Linked DNA regions of Homo sapiens. The protein of the gene in region 1 interacts with the protein of each later gene in a pairwise test. Each region holds a gene or a part of one and is shown in the gene's direction. Other genes may lie near its edges. The genes, in order: CHRD, KRTAP22-1, CD36 and HRG.

The links.
Region 2: the proteins of CHRD (region 1) and KRTAP22-1 interact in a two-hybrid assay, tested with the Homo sapiens proteins (one large-scale study listed by BioGRID).
Region 3: the proteins of CHRD (region 1) and CD36 interact in a two-hybrid assay, tested with the Homo sapiens proteins (one large-scale study listed by BioGRID and IntAct).
Region 4: the proteins of CHRD (region 1) and HRG interact in a two-hybrid assay, tested with the Homo sapiens proteins (one large-scale study listed by BioGRID and IntAct).

Annotation. Positions count from the first base shown.
Region 1 is NC_000003.12:184,382,052-184,387,083, forward strand, and holds part of CHRD (chordin isoform 1 precursor), read left to right. Parts: intron 1-337; coding exon 338-479; intron 480-582; coding exon 583-723; coding exon of another isoform or gene 724-804; coding exon 805-887; exon of another isoform or gene 888-964; coding exon 965-1,112; intron 1,113-1,260; coding exon 1,261-1,367; intron 1,368-1,471; coding exon 1,472-1,591; intron 1,592-2,485; coding exon 2,486-2,642; intron 2,643-2,966; coding exon 2,967-3,187; intron 3,188-3,994; coding exon 3,995-4,108; intron 4,109-4,225; coding exon of another isoform or gene 4,226-4,252; exon of another isoform or gene 4,253-4,433; intron 4,434-4,440; coding exon 4,441-4,704; intron 4,705-4,793; coding exon 4,794-4,887; intron 4,888-4,999; coding exon 5,000-5,032. UniProt on the Homo sapiens protein: Dorsalizing factor. Key developmental protein that dorsalizes early vertebrate embryonic tissues by binding to ventralizing TGF-beta family bone morphogenetic proteins (BMPs) and sequestering them in latent complexes.
Region 2 is NC_000021.9:30,598,777-30,602,498, forward strand, and holds KRTAP22-1 (keratin-associated protein 22-1), read left to right. Parts: upstream 1-2,310; 5' UTR 2,311-2,344; coding exon 2,345-2,491; 3' UTR 2,492-2,606; downstream 2,607-3,722. Other genes in the region: KRTAP6-2 (keratin-associated protein 6-2), read right to left, coding at 1-98. UniProt on the Homo sapiens protein: In the hair cortex, hair keratin intermediate filaments are embedded in an interfilamentous matrix, consisting of hair keratin-associated proteins (KRTAP), which are essential for the formation of a rigid and resistant hair shaft through their extensive disulfide bond cross-linking with abundant cysteine residues of hair keratins.
Region 3 is NC_000007.14:80,644,131-80,649,162, forward strand, and holds part of CD36 (platelet glycoprotein 4), read left to right. Parts: intron 1-1,957; 5' UTR 1,958-2,051; intron 2,052-2,118; exon of another isoform or gene 2,119-2,229; intron 2,230-2,315; exon of another isoform or gene 2,316-2,521; 5' UTR 2,522-2,610; coding exon 2,611-2,730; intron 2,731-5,032.
Region 4 is NC_000003.12:186,672,390-186,677,421, forward strand, and holds part of HRG (histidine-rich glycoprotein precursor), read left to right. Parts: intron 1-397; coding exon 398-478; intron 479-2,699; coding exon 2,700-2,801; intron 2,802-4,633; coding exon of another isoform or gene 4,634-4,657; coding exon 4,658-5,032. UniProt on the Homo sapiens protein: Plasma glycoprotein that binds a number of ligands such as heme, heparin, heparan sulfate, thrombospondin, plasminogen, and divalent metal ions. Binds heparin and heparin/glycosaminoglycans in a zinc-dependent manner.

The DNA of each region.
Region 1 (5,032 bases):
AGTCTGGGCACTGTGCCGAGAGCATGCTCTGCATTGCCTCCCGTGGTCCTCACCACAGCCCAGTGGGAGGAAGGCACTGACATTATGATGCCCATTTTACAGAAGGGGGAACTGAGGCTCAGTAGGATAATGTGATTTGTTCAAGGTCACACAGCTAGTAAGTGGTGCAGCCAGGATTGGAACCCAAGCATCTGGCTCCAGCGTTCTTTCTTAAGCTTCCTAGGGCACCCTGGAGGTTCCTTTCCATGTTCCTTTTTCATAAGCCCTGCCTGGGCATCCTAATTGGCCTAGCCTGCACAGTGTCTGAGCGTAGGGCCTTCTTGTCTCTCTGCTCCAGGTCTGTGGGGTGTGGCGGGCAGTGCCTCGGTTGTCTCTGCGGCTCCTTAGGGCAGAACAGCTGCATGTGGCACTTGTGACACTCACTCACCCTTCAGGGGAGGTCTGGGGGCCTCTCATCCGGCACCGGGCCCTGGCTGCAGGTAGGGAGCAAAGAGCCCCGGGCGTGAAGTTCTGAGTCTTCTCTATCACCCAGGAAAGGGGGGGAGGGTTTCTGACGGGCTCTCATCATCGTCCCTTCCCCAGAGACCTTCAGTGCCATCCTGACTCTAGAAGGCCCCCCACAGCAGGGCGTAGGGGGCATCACCCTGCTCACTCTCAGTGACACAGAGGACTCCTTGCATTTTTTGCTGCTCTTCCGAGGGCTGCTGGAACCCAGGAGTGGGGGTAAGTGGGATGGGGGCAAAACACGTGAGAAGGTTAGGGAGAGCACCTGTCTCAGAAAGGCCCACATGTGCGGCCTTGCAGGACTAACCCAGGTTCCCTTGAGGCTCCAGATTCTACACCAGGGGCAGCTACTGCGAGAACTTCAGGCCAATGTCTCAGCCCAGGTGAGTGGGGATCTGGCTCTCGCTGCCACCTGTCTTGGCCTCTTGCTATTGCCCATCACACCCTGCTCTGTCCCCAGGAACCAGGCTTTGCTGAGGTGCTGCCCAACCTGACAGTCCAGGAGATGGACTGGCTGGTGCTGGGGGAGCTGCAGATGGCCCTGGAGTGGGCAGGCAGGCCAGGGCTGCGCATCAGTGGACACATTGCTGCCAGGAAGAGCTGCGACGGTGAGGCGGGGGGGGGGCCTGGTGCGCCGGGCATGCACAACTGAGAGACACAGACAAGTGCCAGGGTGGGTGTGGGAGAGATCCTGTGGACTGGGGGTGTAAGCGGCCATGGGGTAAACCTAGCCTCACCTGTCTTGCCCCTCCGTAGTCCTGCAAAGTGTCCTTTGTGGGGCTGATGCCCTGATCCCAGTCCAGACGGGTGCTGCCGGCTCAGCCAGCCTCACGCTGCTAGGAAATGGCTCCCTGATCTATCAGGTAAGAGCCAGGGGCTGCAGAAGGTGGGGGAGGGGTGGCGTGGGCAGCAGGCCCCAGGCCTTTACTGCCTCTCCACTTTGCCCTCCTCCATCCCTGCCCATCAGGTGCAAGTGGTAGGGACAAGCAGTGAGGTGGTGGCCATGACACTGGAGACCAAGCCTCAGCGGAGGGATCAGCGCACTGTCCTGTGCCACATGGCTGGACTCCAGCCAGGAGGACACACGGTGAGGGCTCCAGGTGGAGCTGGACCCCAGGGCCCAATGCATGGGCTGTGGGAAGCCAGGTTGGATGAGCAGGGATGTTCATTATCATCCACTCACTCATGGGTTCTCCCACTCATTCATTTATTCATTTGACTTTTTTTTTTTTTTTTTTTTGAGATGGAGTCTGGCTCTGTCACCAGGCTGGAGTGCAGTGGTGTGATCTTGGCTTACTGCAACCTCTGCCTCCTGGGTTCAAGCGATTCTCCTGCCTCAGCCTCCCAAGTAGCTGGGACCACAGGTGTGCACCACCACACCCAGCTAATTTCTGTATTTTTAGTAGAGACGGGGTTTCACCGTGTTGGCCAGGATGGTCTTGATCTCTTGACCTCATGGTCCGCCCACTTCGGCCTCCCAAAGTGCTGGGATTACAGGCGAGAGCCACCGTGCCCGGCATGATTTGACATTTTTAGTGAGCCCCAGACTAGGGACTAGAGTACAAAGCAAATCATATGTGGCCCCTGTGCTTAGCAAGCTCACAGTCAAATGGGAGCATTGGACCTGGAGAACAGTGCCACAGGCCACATATTAGTAAATGTAATGGCAATGGTTGCTACTTATAGGGCCTTTCCATGTGCTAGGTGCTGCATTGGTGGCCTTACATAGTTTTTGGCTTTCACAGTATCCATTTGAGAGATGAGGAAGTGAAGACTTGGAGAAGTTAAGTTACTCTTGAAGGTTGTTACATAGCTAGGAAGCAGCAGGGGAGGGCCTTGAAACTGGGCCTGCCAGGTCCTTATCCTGTGTTTCTGGTGTGTGGAAGTGTGTGTGGGTGGAGTGGGGGCACAAAATGGTCCAAGACTTCAGAACCTTGGACTCGTGTGAGAGCTGAGAAGGCCTATCCTCCCCTGCCCCCAGGCCGTGGGTATCTGCCCTGGGCTGGGTGCCCGAGGGGCTCATATGCTGCTGCAGAATGAGCTCTTCCTGAACGTGGGCACCAAGGACTTCCCAGACGGAGAGCTTCGGGGGCACGTGGCTGCCCTGCCCTACTGTGGGCATAGCGCCCGCCATGACAGTGAGTGTCCTTAGGGGTCTGTCTGCCCTTTGGTTTCCTAGAACATTTGAGGGATGGTGGCAGACAGCCGGAGCCTGGTGTGTCTTTCTTTGTGCCTAAGCTCCGGTTGCCATCTGAAGGTGGGGACATATAGGGTGGCCCTGCTGGCGGACTCTTCCTGTTGCTGAGGTTCAAGGGTCTAAAACTTGCTGCTCTCCAGGCCCTGGACCTATGGACAGTGTCTTCCAGCTCGTGGAATGTGTGCTGGGGAGCTGGGAATGCTGGGTTTGAGGGCTTGCCCTAGGCCACCTTCTCACCTGTCATCTCTCCTCTGTCTGGACCCAGCGCTGCCCGTGCCCCTAGCAGGAGCCCTGGTGCTACCCCCTGTGAAGAGCCAAGCAGCAGGGCACGCCTGGCTTTCCTTGGATACCCACTGTCACCTGCACTATGAAGTGCTGCTGGCTGGGCTTGGTGGCTCAGAACAAGGCACTGTCACTGCCCACCTCCTTGGGCCTCCTGGAACGCCAGGGCCTCGGCGGCTGCTGAAGGGATTCTATGGCTCAGAGGTAAGGATGTGATGGTAGGCGGCAGCTTGGAACATTTCTGTTTTTTAGCTTGAAGGGCTGTGTGGGCCTGTGTTGGGGAAAGCAGAGAGCAGGCAGCCTGGTATAGAAGAGCTGGCATAAATAAAATAAATTAAACAGTGATTTGTAGGCTGGGTGCAGTGGCTCAAGCCTGTAATCCCAGCACTTTGGGAGGCCAGGTGGGTGGATCACCTGAGGTAGGAAGCTCAAGACTAGCCTGACCAACATGGAGAAACCCCATCTCTACTAAAAATACAAAATTAGCTGGGCGTGGTGGCACATGCCTATAATCCCAGCTACTCCAGAGGCTGAGGCAGGAGAATCGCTTGAACCTGGGAGGTGGAGGTTGCAGTGAGCCGAGATGGCGCCATTGCACTCCAGCCTGGACAGAAAGAGCAAAAATCCGTCTCAAAAAAAAAAAAAAAAAAAAAAAAAAAAAGAGCTGGCATGGGCTTGGGAGTCAGATAGACCTGGGCATGACTCTGACTGGCTTTTTATTATTCATTCTCCTTTCTAAGTCTTTTTTTGGTGGGGTGTCTTGGATAGTATGTAATATCCTGGACCTCAGGGGGGTAGGTGGGATGGACTAAGCCCTTCAAGTGGGGTGAGTTCTCATGGACTTGGTCAGAGAGACCTGGCTTCCAAGCTCCACACTATTGCCAATGGGCTTTGCTACCATGAAGACTTTATTTAACCTCCCTGGCTCTCAGTTTCTTCATCTGTGAACTGGGGACAGTAGGCTCAGCCCTAAAGTGCCTTATTCCTATCCATTGTCCTGTCTATGTGCAGGCCCAGGGTGTGGTGAAGGACCTGGAGCCGGAACTGCTGCGGCACCTGGCAAAAGGCATGGCCTCCCTGATGATCACCACCAAGGGTAGCCCCAGAGGGGAGCTCCGAGGGCAGGTAGGTGGCGAGTGTGGGCAGTGGGGGCAGTGGGGAGGGTGCAGAGTTGGAGGGGCACTGTGTGCCATTGCACTAGTCACTTGCTGTCTCTGAGTCCTGGGGGTGGTCGTATCACAGCGCCCCCCCGGCTGGTGGGGAGGATGAGCTACATGAGGAGGCTGGCAGCCCGGCACCCTATCCCTGGCAGCTGAGATGATTGTGGAGCGAATGGCATCCTCCTGGGCCACTGCAGCGCTCAGGGGGCCGAGGTGTCTCCTGCTGGCTGGCCAGCTGCCGCTGGTAAAGACGCGAGGGGGAGCCCCAGCGCTGCCTCAGTTGGCCTCTCCTCCCAGGTGCACATAGCCAACCAATGTGAGGTTGGCGGACTGCGCCTGGAGGCGGCCGGGGCCGAGGGGGTGCGGGCGCTGGGGGCTCCGGATACAGCCTCTGCTGCGCCGCCTGTGGTGCCTGGTCTCCCGGCCCTAGCGCCCGCCAAACCTGGTGGTCCTGGGCGGCCCCGAGACCCCAACACATGCTTCTTCGAGGGGCAGCAGCGCCCCCACGGGGCTCGCTGGGCGCCCAACTACGACCCGCTCTGCTCACTCTGCACCTGCCAGGTAGGAGGTCCTGGAAGGGCACACTGGGTCCTGGGATCTGGAGCAAGGGGCCTGGACACTCCCGTCAATGCCTCTGCTCCTCTCTGCAGAGACGAACGGTGATCTGTGACCCGGTGGTGTGCCCACCGCCCAGCTGCCCACACCCGGTGCAGGCTCCCGACCAGTGCTGCCCTGTTTGCCCTGGTGAGTTCCCCGCAGGGGAGTGGAGGGAGGAGTTGGCCCAGTGCGGACAGGTCCTTTGGGGAGGGAATGAGGGTGGTCACTCTCTGCTTTCACCATTTCTTTGGCTCCACAGAGAAACAAGATGTCAGAGACTTGCCAGGGCTGC
Region 2 (3,722 bases), on another chromosome or scaffold:
CCACAGCGCAGGCTTCCATAGCCATAGCCTAGGCCTTCGTATCCACAGCACCCATAGCCATGGTCGCCGTAGTAGTTTCCGTAGTAGCTGCCGCACATCGTGATGGTTGTGGAGGTTGTCCTTGGGTAGGAAGGAGTGTAGGTGACTTCAGTATGGATACTTCCTGTAGAAGTCCTTTTATATGCCTCAGGATGGGAATGATCCAGCAGAGGTAGCATACCACTGGCTAATTTTTTGACTAATATAATTAGTTTGTTTTTTCTCAATTGTAAGATAATGCTGCAGAGGTATTAAGGAGGCTTGTTTTGTTTGGCCTTGCAATTTGGGCTCCCCTTATCTGATTGAGGGCTCTGATGAAAGGAGACCTCACACACTCACACTCATATAATCCTGCCTCAAACTAGACTTTCTATAGCCATCCTTTACATCAAGAAAGACTTTTGTTAGTTACACTCTTATTTGCTCTAGGCCCCAATTAATTGTACTCTTTTGCACAACATTCAGCAAACAATAACTTTGCCCTTTTAGTATTTCTGCTCTCTTTATCCAAATAATACTTTTTTCAGGGATTTAGTGTCTTTTCTATACTAAAGCCATGATGTTGATAATAATTCAACTAATTAAAAATTCTAGAAAACCAGATCTGAGAAAAATTTGTTGTATTTTTCTACTTATACCAGTGAGTCTAATTTTCCTTTATGTTCAACCTCTACGGAAGAACAAGAAAATGTAAGTTATTTTCTTGATTTATAAAAGAATTAATAAGTGACCAAGTCAATGAAATGGAACAATAGTTTTATATTCTCTTTTAACTTCTTATCTTAAAATAATCTCAGGCATAGAGATAGTTGTCAAAATAGTATAGAAAATTTCCATATATCCATCATTCAACATCCCTAATATTAATATCTTTCATAACCATAATCCACTTATCACACCAAAGAAATTAACTGTGTACAGTATTCTTAACTAAACTGCAGACTTTATTTTACCATTTTTCTGTTATTATTAACTTATTTTATTTTAAGTTCTAGGACCATGGTTCATTGTAGCACTATTCACATATTTATTTTAATGTTCTTTTTTTCTGTTCTTGGATCCAATTCACATTGCATTTGGTTTTTATACTTCTTAGTCACCTCCAATTGCTCATGGTTCATTCGTCTTTTCTTGGCTTTTATGACCTTACAATTTTAGAGAGCCAGATATTTTGTGGAATATTCCCCAATTGAATCTGTCTAAGGTTTCCTCATATGTAGATTGAGGTTATACATTTGGGAAGAGATGTAACTCTTGTCTTGTGCCATCTCAGGGAGTCATGATGCCAATAAATCTTTGAGTAATTCTGGAATTGTTTTAAAATTCAGATTTTTAATAGAAGTCCTTTTCTTACTATATACCCAGAATCAACGAAGTCAAAAATCAAAGTCTTTGCCACGGTTTAGAATCATATATAAAATGATAGCTACATGTGAAGTATAAACCAAAGAGAATGATATTGCTCCACAAAAAGTGATGAAACACCTTATCACTCAACATTTTACAAGTGAATGCTGCCACCATGACTTCTCTTACACGCTTATCATCCTTCCTTATCACTTTGGAGCTACACTCTTATTCCCAAGTCTGCATATATGTATTTAGGCTGAAGGATATTATTGGGTGAAAGTAGGATTTTTAAAAAATGGAAGCCATCACGTCCATAACCCCAGGCTTTGGGAGGCCGAGGCGGGCGGATCTTGAGGTCAGGAGATCAAGACCATCCTGGCCAACATGGCGAAACCCCATCTCTACTAAAAATACAAAAATTAGCTGGGCGTGGTGGCACGCACCAGCTATTCATAAGGCTGAGGCAGAGAATCCAGGAGAATCACTTGAAACCAGGAGGTGGAGGTTGCAGTGAGATTGTGCCACTGCACTCCAGCCAGGCAACAGAGCTAGTCTCTGTCTCACAACAACAACAACAACAACAACAACAAGTGGAAGCCATGTGGGTTACTCTTGGTTGCTGGTAATGTAGTTTAAATTTGACATCTGAAATAAACGAGTCATCAAAATAGGAGATGGATCTCTTATTAAAGGTACATTATTTCATTATATTCAACATTCCTGAGAAACAGCAAAGTTGTCTTGGATGTATTGGTTACAAGGAATATTTTAGATGGTTTCAATGCTAATTAGTGTGGAATGTGAATCTAACAGTGCCTGTGATTTGTCCCACATACCATTCATGTGGCATTTAAGGCCCTTATTATAAGCTTAAAACTTTAAACTTAAAACTCTATAAACTTAAAACTCTAGAATCTGATCCTGCTATACAACTGAGCCTACCTTTCTTGAAACCATGAGCTTTGATAACAACTACCATGGTGGCCAGGGCTATGCCAAAGGAGGCCTGGGCTGCAGCTATGGCTGTGGTCTTAGCGGCTATGGCTATGCCTGCTACTGCCCATGGTGTTATGAAAGATCTTGGTTTTCTGGCTGCTTCTGAGAAATTAGAGATTGCTGATCTGTTTAGGCCATTCTCTTATGAGCTATGTTTTCTTCCCGTGTTTTTTTCTGTTCAAAGAGTGACAACTAAAATTTAGCCCACATTGCCAAGTCAGAATTTATTTGATCAATTAGCTGGAATTTCCAACAATTTAATCAAACGAAAAAAGAACCTTTGATGTTGTGTTACTAGTATATGATTAAGTACAAATAATGTTAAGCATTTTCATTTGGGAAAAAGTCTAAATTTATTTTTCTTCAAAGGTAATTTATTTTGCAAACCTACAGCATTTTCCTACCTATATTTATTTATCTAGAGTACCTATATTATTTGTGATTGTGTGTGTGTGTTCAGGAGCACATATGTAAGGTTGCTGACCCATTGGAAACTTACAGTTGATGATGTGGATGTGTTAGGTCTGACCAATAGTACTTTGATAAAATGTATTCTCATGGGCAGAGCCAAGTGGTACTATAATTTACTTTGATCTATCAAAGCCTCATCTTCAGTGTATCCAATGTTTGACTAAAATCATTGGCAAAAATAGTACCTCCCTTCTCATCACTTTATTCTGTTGCACATACATTACATTTCTTGATACTTAGTTGCATTTTTGGCTCTAGATAGCTGTAACTTTTTCTCTAAATCCTATATTATGGCTGTTTCTTTTAACTCTGAAAAAATATACTCTTGAACTCATCCTATGCCTGGTGGCTGCATAGACAGCACTTCCAAGTGTCAGACCCATGTGGCCACAGAGAGTCCATCAAATTTAAGTATGTTTCTGTGAACCTTTTATCAAGGTCAATATCTGCTACCTCAGGTAATACTTTCTTCTTGAAGACACAAGTCTGACCCAAAATACAAGCTGAAAAATATAGACTTCAGTTTGCCAGCCGTGCTCAAGTTAAGCAAAGCTGTTCTTTATTCACTCTACTTATTATTTATCAGTCGACATTGATAAAAATATAAAGCAAAAATATCTTCTAATCTGTTAGTGACTAATGTTAACATTTGGAGTTTCTACAACTAATAAAATATTCATACAAAATTACTTTGTTAATGGCTATTATAGTATGAAGTTGGCTAAACTCTTAACTAGCTTCCAAATACATGATTTTTTAAAACATCTAGATGAAACAATAATAAAGAATTTTTTAAAATTCTTCATCAATTAAAGACAGACAACATATAGAGCCGTATCACTCTGACATCTCCAAGTATTGACAGG
Region 3 (5,032 bases), on another chromosome or scaffold:
CCTGATTACCAGCATTAAATTACTCATTCCATTGCATTAGGACAGCCATGGACAAAGCCATATGAGGTAGCATGGTATACGATTTCCAAGGGCAGGGAAAGCTATTGTTACCACTCCACCCTGAACAATTAATAAAAAGCCAGCCCTACTTGCTCAGTGAGACAGAAAATTCCACAGGAAAAACAAATCACTTGTTTAGACTTATGTGCATTCCCTTTACATTGGAGAAAAATGACACTAAAGAACTAGTCAGTCTTCTTAATCACCAAGACCTTGATGTAAATGAAGTTTATTGCATCCTATGGTTTATACTGGAAAGTATCCTATGTATAAGGGAATAGGCAAAGGGGAATCCCAAAGGTTAAGGGAACATATGTAAATAATAAAATTGCCAAGAAAAATATTTGTAACATTTATTCCTACATTTTGGGGGAAAATATCATTTTCTTATTCTTTTCTTAGCTCTACAGGTAATATTTTTGAAAAACTATATGATTACTAAAGTGGAAGTAAATACTAATAAAATCATAAGAGTGGTACCTCTGTTGCAAGACAGCTGTGGAGGGAAAACCTGAAATTATAACAAACCACAATTATTAATACACTTACAACATTAACAACAATATTCTATGTGCCCTTTTTTGACTGTAGCCTTCATTCCGTTGGCACATATGTTTTCTTTGGCCATGAGCATTTCAAAGTAGAGAATAATTGTTTATAAACTATAAAGCGCATTCTGACTATAAATGACACGCCAACCCCATTATTGACAAAATGTCATTGCAACAACAAAGAAGTTCAAATAAATGTGTTTTCAAATACTAGTTAGAATTAACTCTGATTATTACAGTAGGATCCACTCATTTCACAAACTGTATTCTTTCTTCCAATCTTTTTTTTTTTTTTTGAGATGGAGTTTCACTCTTGTTGCCCAGGCTGGAGTGCAATGGCATGATCTCGGCTCACCGCAACCTCCGCCTCCTGGGTTCAAGCGATTCTCCTGCCTCAGCCTCCGGAGTAGCTGGGATTACAAGCATGTGCCACCAAGCCCGGCTAACTTTGTATGTTTAGTAGAGATGGGGTTTCTCTGTGTTGGTCGGGCTGGTCTCAAACTCCCAACCTCAGGTGATCCACCCGCCTCAGCCTTCCAAAGTGCTAGGATGACAGGTGTGAGCCACCACGCCCGGCTCTCCCAATCTTTATATAATAATCACATACTATGGCTGGGCATGGTGGCTCACGCCTGTCATCCCAGCACTTTGGGAGGCTGAGGTGGGTGGATCACGAGGTCAGGAGTTCGAGACCAGCCTGACCAACATGGTGAAACCCCATCTCTACTGAAAATACAAAAATTAACCAGGCATGGTGGCGTGCACCTGTAATCCCAGCTACACAGGAGGCTGAGTCAGGAGAATTGCTTGAACCCAGGAGGCAGAGGTTGCAGTGAGCCGAGATCGTGCCACTGCACTCCAGCCTGGGTGACAGAGAAAGACTCCGTCTCAAAAAATAATAATAATCACATACTTTATGAAGACACCAAACATTAGATTGACAAATATATACTAACACAAACTACCTAATTTTAACAGAATTAGCATGAATCAACTGCAAATGACAAACTATATTGTAGTTGAATGTGTAGGGAAAAAATTCTTCAGTAAGAGAGCAATGCCATGGTTGAAACAAGACATCCTCTACATTTTATATTTGCTTCAAATTCTTTATACCTGTAGTCTATCCAAAGTCATCAATAAAACTGAAAGTAAGATACTCTTATTTTAAAAATTCCATGTTTTAAACAGTTTTTAGGACAAGCCATTCAGGCCTGAACTCAGTATTCATGAAAATTAGACTTTCTTTTAACAGTTATTTTAAGTATGGTGATATTAGAGAGTGTCCCAGTATAAAATTTCTGAGAATTTTTTTCTATTTACCCATGCTTTTCTTATTTTCACAGATAGCTTTCCAATGATTAGACGAATTGATTCTTTCTGTGACTCATCAGTTCATTTCCTGTAAAATTCATGTCTTGCTGTTGATTTGTGAATAAGGTATCGTAAATAAAACATCTGTTACCATACTTGCTTATCATTTAATGGAAAACACATCAGTCAACCCACATTCTGTTCGCAGGAGAGCTCCAGAAGGGGTGTGGAAGGTTGTGTTGGGTGGAGAAACCAGATAGTGAGGATGCAACTAAGTTGCTGAGACAAGGGAAGAGAGATGAGGGTGAGAGTTCTCCTTAGATAAGATTTCAATATGTTAATCATGTGTAGAAAGAAAATTAAAAAGGAGGAATATGAAGAAATTCAGATATGACATTATTAGTTCTGCCACTGGTAGGCATTAGAAGCAAGAAAAGGGAGACGGACCGAGGAAGCCACTTTGGTGAAACAAAAAGAAAAGCATTTGTTTATTTAGAACGGGCAAAATGATACGTTTCAGTGGGTGTTTTCTTTGTACTTTGATCTTTTTGTACTGATATTTAAGCTTCTGTTTTATGATCTCTTTCTAATGATAGAACCAGAGCTTGTAGAAACCACTTTAATCATATCCAGGAGTTTGCAAGAAACAGGTGCTTAACACTAATTCACCTCCTGAACAAGAAAAATGGGCTGTGACCGGAACTGTGGGCTCATCGCTGGGGCTGTCATTGGTGCTGTCCTGGCTGTGTTTGGAGGTATTCTAATGCCAGTTGGAGACCTGCTTATCCAGAAGACAATTAAAAAGGTACAAGTAGTCCAAAGAATATGCCTTCTCATTTTGATTGATTCTAACTTCTCTTTTTTTGCTTTGTATTTACCTGCTTTATATTTCATGGTAACTGCTAATTTTGTATCTTTGACATAAAGGTAATTATGAACCACTGCAACTCTATATGATGCGACTTTATGTGAAATGTTATAAGTATAATGTATATTTAACATGACTCCATTGCTGTCTTAAATATAAATACCAAATTCTATTAAAAGCTGTCTACAGGTATGCATGTTAGTAGAAATAATTGTTTTAAGTTATGTCCAAAGAGCATGTTGGCATGCTTTTGAGTAGGAAATAAGTGAGTATATTTTGTAAAAGCACATTTATAAAAGAAGTTGCACTTTAGTTAATACTGAGAAAAGTAAAACTGTGTGTGTGTGTGTGTGTGTGTGTAATGTGTTTAATATTGAAACATAAATCCTTATTAAATTGTAGGTAAACTTGTTTGGTAATACACTGTTTAGTAATCCACTATTTTTATATATGTGTAATAATCTCATCTCATAAATATTTTCTATTTGTGAAGCTTCATATTGGAATCTTAGAAAATACTTTCAGAAATATGCAGAACATGTCTTAGTATAAAACAAATTGACTGTAGTGTGAAAAAACAGAATGATTGAATAGATGGGCTTTGCACAACAACCTAGAATTCATCTCCCACCCTAGCTTATTCGAATTAGCTACACACTCACTCATCAGAAACGTTGATTGATAGGGGGAAGAAGAGAATAAAGGGAAGCAGTTCTGCTGAAGTTCTAAATCAGGGATGGCAAATTCAAATGGCTGCAGGAGTTTGGATACAGGGGTTAAACAAAATTTAAGGTGCCAAGAACAAGATAAAATGAAGAACAGGAACTGCTGTGAACTAGACTGTGTGTTTACTGCCTGAAGGCATAAATGTTCATTTTATTAAACATAATACTGGCCAAATAAAACGAGTTCTGCCTTCAACTCTCTACCTGGTTAGGATGGCAATGACCTAGACAAAGGGTTAGTAAGCATAGTGCACGATGGAGAACAGGAGGAATTGAATTTTTATTAAATTTTTATTGCTATATTGTTAGTATTTTTAATATTTTTGATCCACAGTTGGTTGAATCTGCAGATGTGGAACCCATGAATACAGAGGGCTGACTGTATTGTGTTTATTGCTAACATATTGCAGAACTTCAGCCTCATGCATTTAACTGAAAAAACATATGTAAATTAGTATCCCCTGCCTTGGAATTCTTAGTTTTCTTGATAGTATTTTTAATACAGGCCAATGGAAACAGACAGGTAATAGTGAGGTGTGGGGCTTATCTAATAGTGGGATGGAGTGGCCATTGATCTGACATCCTTCCTACTCATAAACTATGTTCTCACCCAGATCTTATGCAGAGAAAGTACAAGATCAGTGTCTGTGTTAACGTACAGACTACAACATCATTTGGAAAAGTTTTCCAAATTCAAAAATCACAATAATCTTCCAATGCACAGCGATTTAGACTACTTTTTTTTGCTGACACATAATTATTGGTCAATAACTGAGTATTGATGATTTAATTTTTTTCTTTGTCATGCAACAAAACTGGTACATGTAGATTCTTTTGAATAGCATGTGAGGTGCTAGCATTTATTTTAATTCTTTAATATTTATCTTTATGCTTATAATAGTTAACCATGAGAAAGTAAGTTTTCTGACATCAAAATGTGCTTTTGTATAATGACTAAGAGAATAATATAATCTCATCTATTGTAAGCTATAACCAGGGGAAGATATATTATAATAAAAAATACCGAGACCTATGAGACTCTAGAATTGAATTGGAAAAGTAAATGCTGTAATACTTTGAAAGAGAAATCTCTCAGAGTATTCAAGAAACTTCAGGAAAAAGGTAGGACTTGATTCAGATTTTAAAGAAGTGTAGAATTTTGAAAGTCTCAAATAACTGCAGTAACCATATTAAAGGACTGATTGATAGTATGAAAAACCCTGTGAAAATGCTACCAAATGCAGTGAAGATGGAAGGAAGAAGGTAGAGAATGTGCCCATAATACTGGATTAACAGCAGAAAAGATTAGAAGTTAACATGGGGTTAGAGTTAGGAAGCAAGCTTAGAACATCAGGCAGAAAAATACTTAATTGATGATACAATACACAATAGTCGTCGGTATGTTTTTCAGCAAGTGTAAGATATGATAAAACCTGAATTTAGAGATTAGATGGCTAACATTTAATTCTTACTAAGAGTTTCCTATATACTAGTTCACTTAATCTTCAAAAATA
Region 4 (5,032 bases), 2.3 Mb from region 1:
CAGGTTATAGAACAGTACTTAGACTATGGACCCATTTATATGAAACACTTAGATCTCCCTGTGTATGTGTAACACATCTAGGAAAACACTCGAAGAGGAAACACATCAAATAAATGAGAATGAAAACTCTGGGAAGAAGTTGGAGTGCAGGAGAGGTGATTTTTCACACTCTACTTTATCATATATTTATTATTTGAACCTTTTCAGTGAACTGGTATTCACCTTATCACTTAGGTGATACATTTTTAAAAGGCAGAAACCATTTTAAAAAATGACACATACTGGTGATTTTGAATTCTCATACTGCCTTAAAAAATATTGAATGGTAGTTATCTACTGCTTTTTTTTCCTTTTTCTTTGTCTGTTCTTGAAACTATTTTGATCCCATCTGTTCTAGAGAGGAGGGGAAGGAACTGGTTACTTCGTGGACTTCTCTGTGCGGAACTGCCCCAGACACCATTTCCCCAGACACCCCAATGTGAGTATAAGAAATGTCTGTGATCGTTGACTAGAGTCACAGAGAAAAAAGAAAGAGAAGAAGGAGAAGGAGAAGGAGAAGGAGAGGAAGGAGAAGAAGGAGAAGAGGAATGAGAAGGAGAAAATGAGGAGGAGGAGAAGGAGGAAGAAATGTCTGTGAAATACAAAGTATCATCTGGGAAGCACTTAGTACCTGCCAGGCACTCTTCTAAGTGATTTACACATCAGATAACTTATTGTTTTGTTTTGTTTTTGAGATGGAGTTTCGCTCTTGTTGCCCAGGTTGGAGTGCAATGGCACAGTGTCGGCTCACTGCAACCTCCGCCTCCCGGGTTCAGGCGATTCTCCTGCCTCAGCCTCCGGAGTAACTGGGATTACAGGCATGCACCACCACGCCCAGCTAATTTTTGTATTTTTAGTAGAGATGGGGTTTCACCATGTTGATCAGGTTGGTCTCAAACTCCTTATCTCAGGTGTCCACCCACTTCGGCTGGGATTACAAATCAAAGTGCTGGGGTTACAGGCGCAAGCCACCATGCCCAGCCTATGATAACTTATTAACCCTCACACTACCATATGAGATAGATACCATTTTTAATCCCAAATTAGCAGATAGGGGAACTGAGGCACAGAGAACATAAGCGAACCATAAGAACATGATTTTATAATATACATGATATATACCTAAACTTAAAACTAAGTTTCTAACTGATTAGGATTAAAGGCTTAGTTAGAACTATAGCAGTTCGTACTAAGACCCTACGCCAAGTGGTTTTATTAATTCCACATCATCACACTCACAGGAATCCCACTTGACAAATGAGGAGGTAACTGAAAATCAGCAAAGGAAAGGTCTTGCCGATGTTCACAACCAAGCTGAGATTAAAACTTAGTTATTCTCATACAAAGTCCAGTGGGATTTTTCCTCTAATCATTTACAAATAGATTCCCATGTACCTGCCAGAAGACATTATTAATACCACCTGGCATTTGCATGGTGACCTACAGTTAAAGAAACACCTCCACATCTGTTATTGCCAGGAGAGCCTCATGAAAATCCTGCTGACAAGGAAAAGCAAGTATCTGCCTACATTTCCTGTGACAAGGGGACCTGAAATTAAAACCACTTACCTAAAGGCACTTAGCTAGAGAGTGTTAGGAAATGGAATTTTAATTATGATGCCAAGTCCAGGATTTTTCTGAGGTTTAACAACACATTCTCCCTGGTCAAAAGGGAGAAACCATCCATTAGTACCTTTGTTAGCTCTTCTAATGTCCACACTGAACCAGGTCTAGAAACCTTCTTAGCGCCCACCAGAAAAGACACCTCCCTCCCCTACTCCTATGGCCAACAAACCCTTCATGATCTTGGTGTGGATAATGTAAACCCAGAGTTGAAGCACCAGAGCTGAAGAGGAGGCTCAGGGGTAAGTGTTTTACAGCATCCTCTTGTTTAATTAATCCCTCCCACAACCTGTGAGTACATAGTATTATCCCCATTTTACAATGGCTGACTTTCAGAAATCTTTTGTAACTTTCCCAAACTCAGACAACTAGGAAATGGAGAAGCCAGGATTAACATAGGTCTCTCTGATTCCCAAACTGTACTCAGAACCTCAATGCTTAGCAATTTCTTCTAGCAGACAGCCGTCCTCTTGTCCTAGTCGATCTTTCACAGGTGGGTTTAGGAGCATCTGGAGCACAGGAGTGGCAGCCAGTTGTAGCCCTGGCACTTGGGTGGAGTCAGCAGACACTTGCCTTGACAATGTCCATGAAAACCCATCTTTATGCTATACAGATGCCCTCCTGTCCAACACTTTCCTCCAAGGGACCAGCTGAAGTTGTAAAAATCCCTCTTTGACACCATTCCTCATTGTCCTAGGCACAGGCAACTGAGGTCTCCAGTGCAGAAGGGTTGGCCTAAAGGCAAGGCAGCAATGATGTGGTTTTCCTCATCATTTCCATCACCCATGGGGAAGCCCAGTGCTGGTGCCTGCTCATGAAAAAAACCACAGCAACTTTAGTGATACCCTTCACCACCTGCACTTTCCCCAAAGTGTTAACAAGGAAAGATTGCTGAACGACTGGTGGGAATATCTGATCATATTACCCTGATTTTTCTAAAGCACTTCTTCCTTTTCTGAATGTCTGGAAGCTAACTCTGGCTGGTCATCTTCACACCACCTGGACACACACACTAACAGCTCCTCATTCCTTTGTAGGTCTTTGGATTCTGCAGAGCAGATTTGTTCTATGATGTAGAAGCCTTGGACTTGGAAAGCCCGAAAAACCTTGTCATAAACTGTGAAGTCTTCGACCCTCAGGTGGGTTGTCTAAGCAGACTTTGTCATGGCAGTGCCAGATTAAGTGACATACGTACACAAATAGTGTTGTTGCTTCCTAAAGCTCTATGAGTGGGTGTGTGTGTGTGTGTGTGTGTGTGAGAGAGAGAGAGAGAGAGAGAGACAGAGACAGAGACAGAGAGAGGGAGACAGGGAGAGAGAGAAAGAGAGAGACAGACAGACATGCAAGAAAAAAGATACAGAGAGTATCCCACAACTGGGGAAAGGAGTGCAATTGCCAGATTACACAAAAAGTATGAAAACTTTTCCAAGAATTGAAGAGGGGTAACAATTGGCAGAAAATTAAAATCATGTCCAATTCAACCAAACTTGAAGGAATTTGAAAATGCTCTTTGTAGTCGGGACTCTAGTGCTGAGACTTAGTCATTCCTAAGCTTATATTATTGGGCATAGAATCTAAGAGGAATATATCAGCCTCAAATTTATTATGTAAATGTATATAAAATAAGATGCAAAACCATATTTTGCATCTGTCTCAGAAATCTTTGGTCTATTTTTTACATGAGTACAAAGATTTGCTTCACGAAATTTTTCATATCAGAAACAAAACTTAAAATAATCCAAACATCCAATCCCAAGTTAAAAAAAAGAAAAAGGAACAAAGGGCAGGATTGTCACCATGAACATGGCTCTGTCTTTTTTTTTTTTTTTTTTTTTGAGAAGGAGTTTTGCTCTTATTGCCCAGGCTGGAATACAATGGTGCCATCTCGGCTCACCACAACCTCTGCCTCCTGGGTTCAAGCGATTCTCCTGCCTCAGCCTCCTGAGTAGCTAGGATTACAGGCATGCGCCACCATACCTGGCTAATTTTGCATTTTTAGTAGAGAAGGGGTTTCTCCATGTTGGTCAGGTTGGTCTCAAACTCCTGACCTTAGGTGATCCACCTGCCTCAGCCTCCCAAAGTTCTGGGATTACAGACATGAGCCACCGTGCCCGGCCTCTGTAGCTATTTTTTAAAAAATTAAACTCTGAACAAGGAAGAGAGAGAAGAGGTCAAGTGTTCAGCCTTTAGGAGTAAGGGATGTTGATACCATCAAGCCTCAGTTAAGAATATCAGTTATAAGGCACTAGTTTTCCAGTGTTGGTCTACAGATGGGTGCCAGGTCATAATATTGTTTCACCACTCTGTGTAGTAAAAATGAAAAAAAAATAAGGATAATGAAGTTTTTTATATCTAACATTTATCCATCTAAAGGACAATCCTTTACTCTGATATTGTGTTTCTGGCTCTTTCTTTTTTTTTTAAATCAAAATTTCATTCCAGGCTGGGCATGGTGGCTCATGCCTGTAATCCCAGCACTTTGGGAAGCTGAGATGGGTGGATTACTTGAAACAAGGAGTTCAACATGGTGAAACCTGTCTCTACTAAAAATACAAAAATTAGGAGTCTGGGCAACAGAGTAAGACTATGTCTCAAAAAAAGAAAAAAAAAAATTAGGTGGGCATGGTGGCTTGGGCGTGTAGTCCCAGCTACTTGGGAGGCTGAGGCAGGAGAATTGCTTGAACCTGAGAGGTGGATGTTGCAATGAGCAGAGATCGCACCACTGCACTCCAGACTGGGTGACAGAGCGAGACTCAGTCTCAGAAAAAAAAAATAGTTTCTTTTGTGAAACAATGATGGTGGTAAATGATAGTTATTGTTAATATTTTAAATATCAACTGGGCTAGATAACAATTTGAGAATCTTTTTTCGTAATACTTTTTAAATTGATTTGTGGAATCTATGATCTGGGAGCCATTGGTGTAAATCAAGTCAAGTATCTAACATCTTCTTTTATGTTACATGATGATAGGCACTTTTCTGTGACCTTTTCCAGGAACATGAGAACATCAATGGTGTACCGCCTCATTTGGGACATCCCTTCCACTGGGGTGGGCATGAGCGTTCTTCTACCACCAAGCCTCCATTCAAGCCCCATGGATCTAGAGATCATCATCATCCCCACAAGCCACACGAACATGGACCCCCACCTCCTCCAGATGAAAGAGATCACTCACATGGACCCCCACTTCCACAAGGCCCTCCTCCACTATTGCCCATGTCCTGCTCAAGTTGTCAACATGCCACTTTTGGCACAAATGGGGCCCAAAGACATTCTCATAATAATAATTCCAGTGACCTCCATCCCCATAAGCATCATTCCCATGAACAGCATCCCCACGGACACCATCCCCATGCACACCATCCTCAT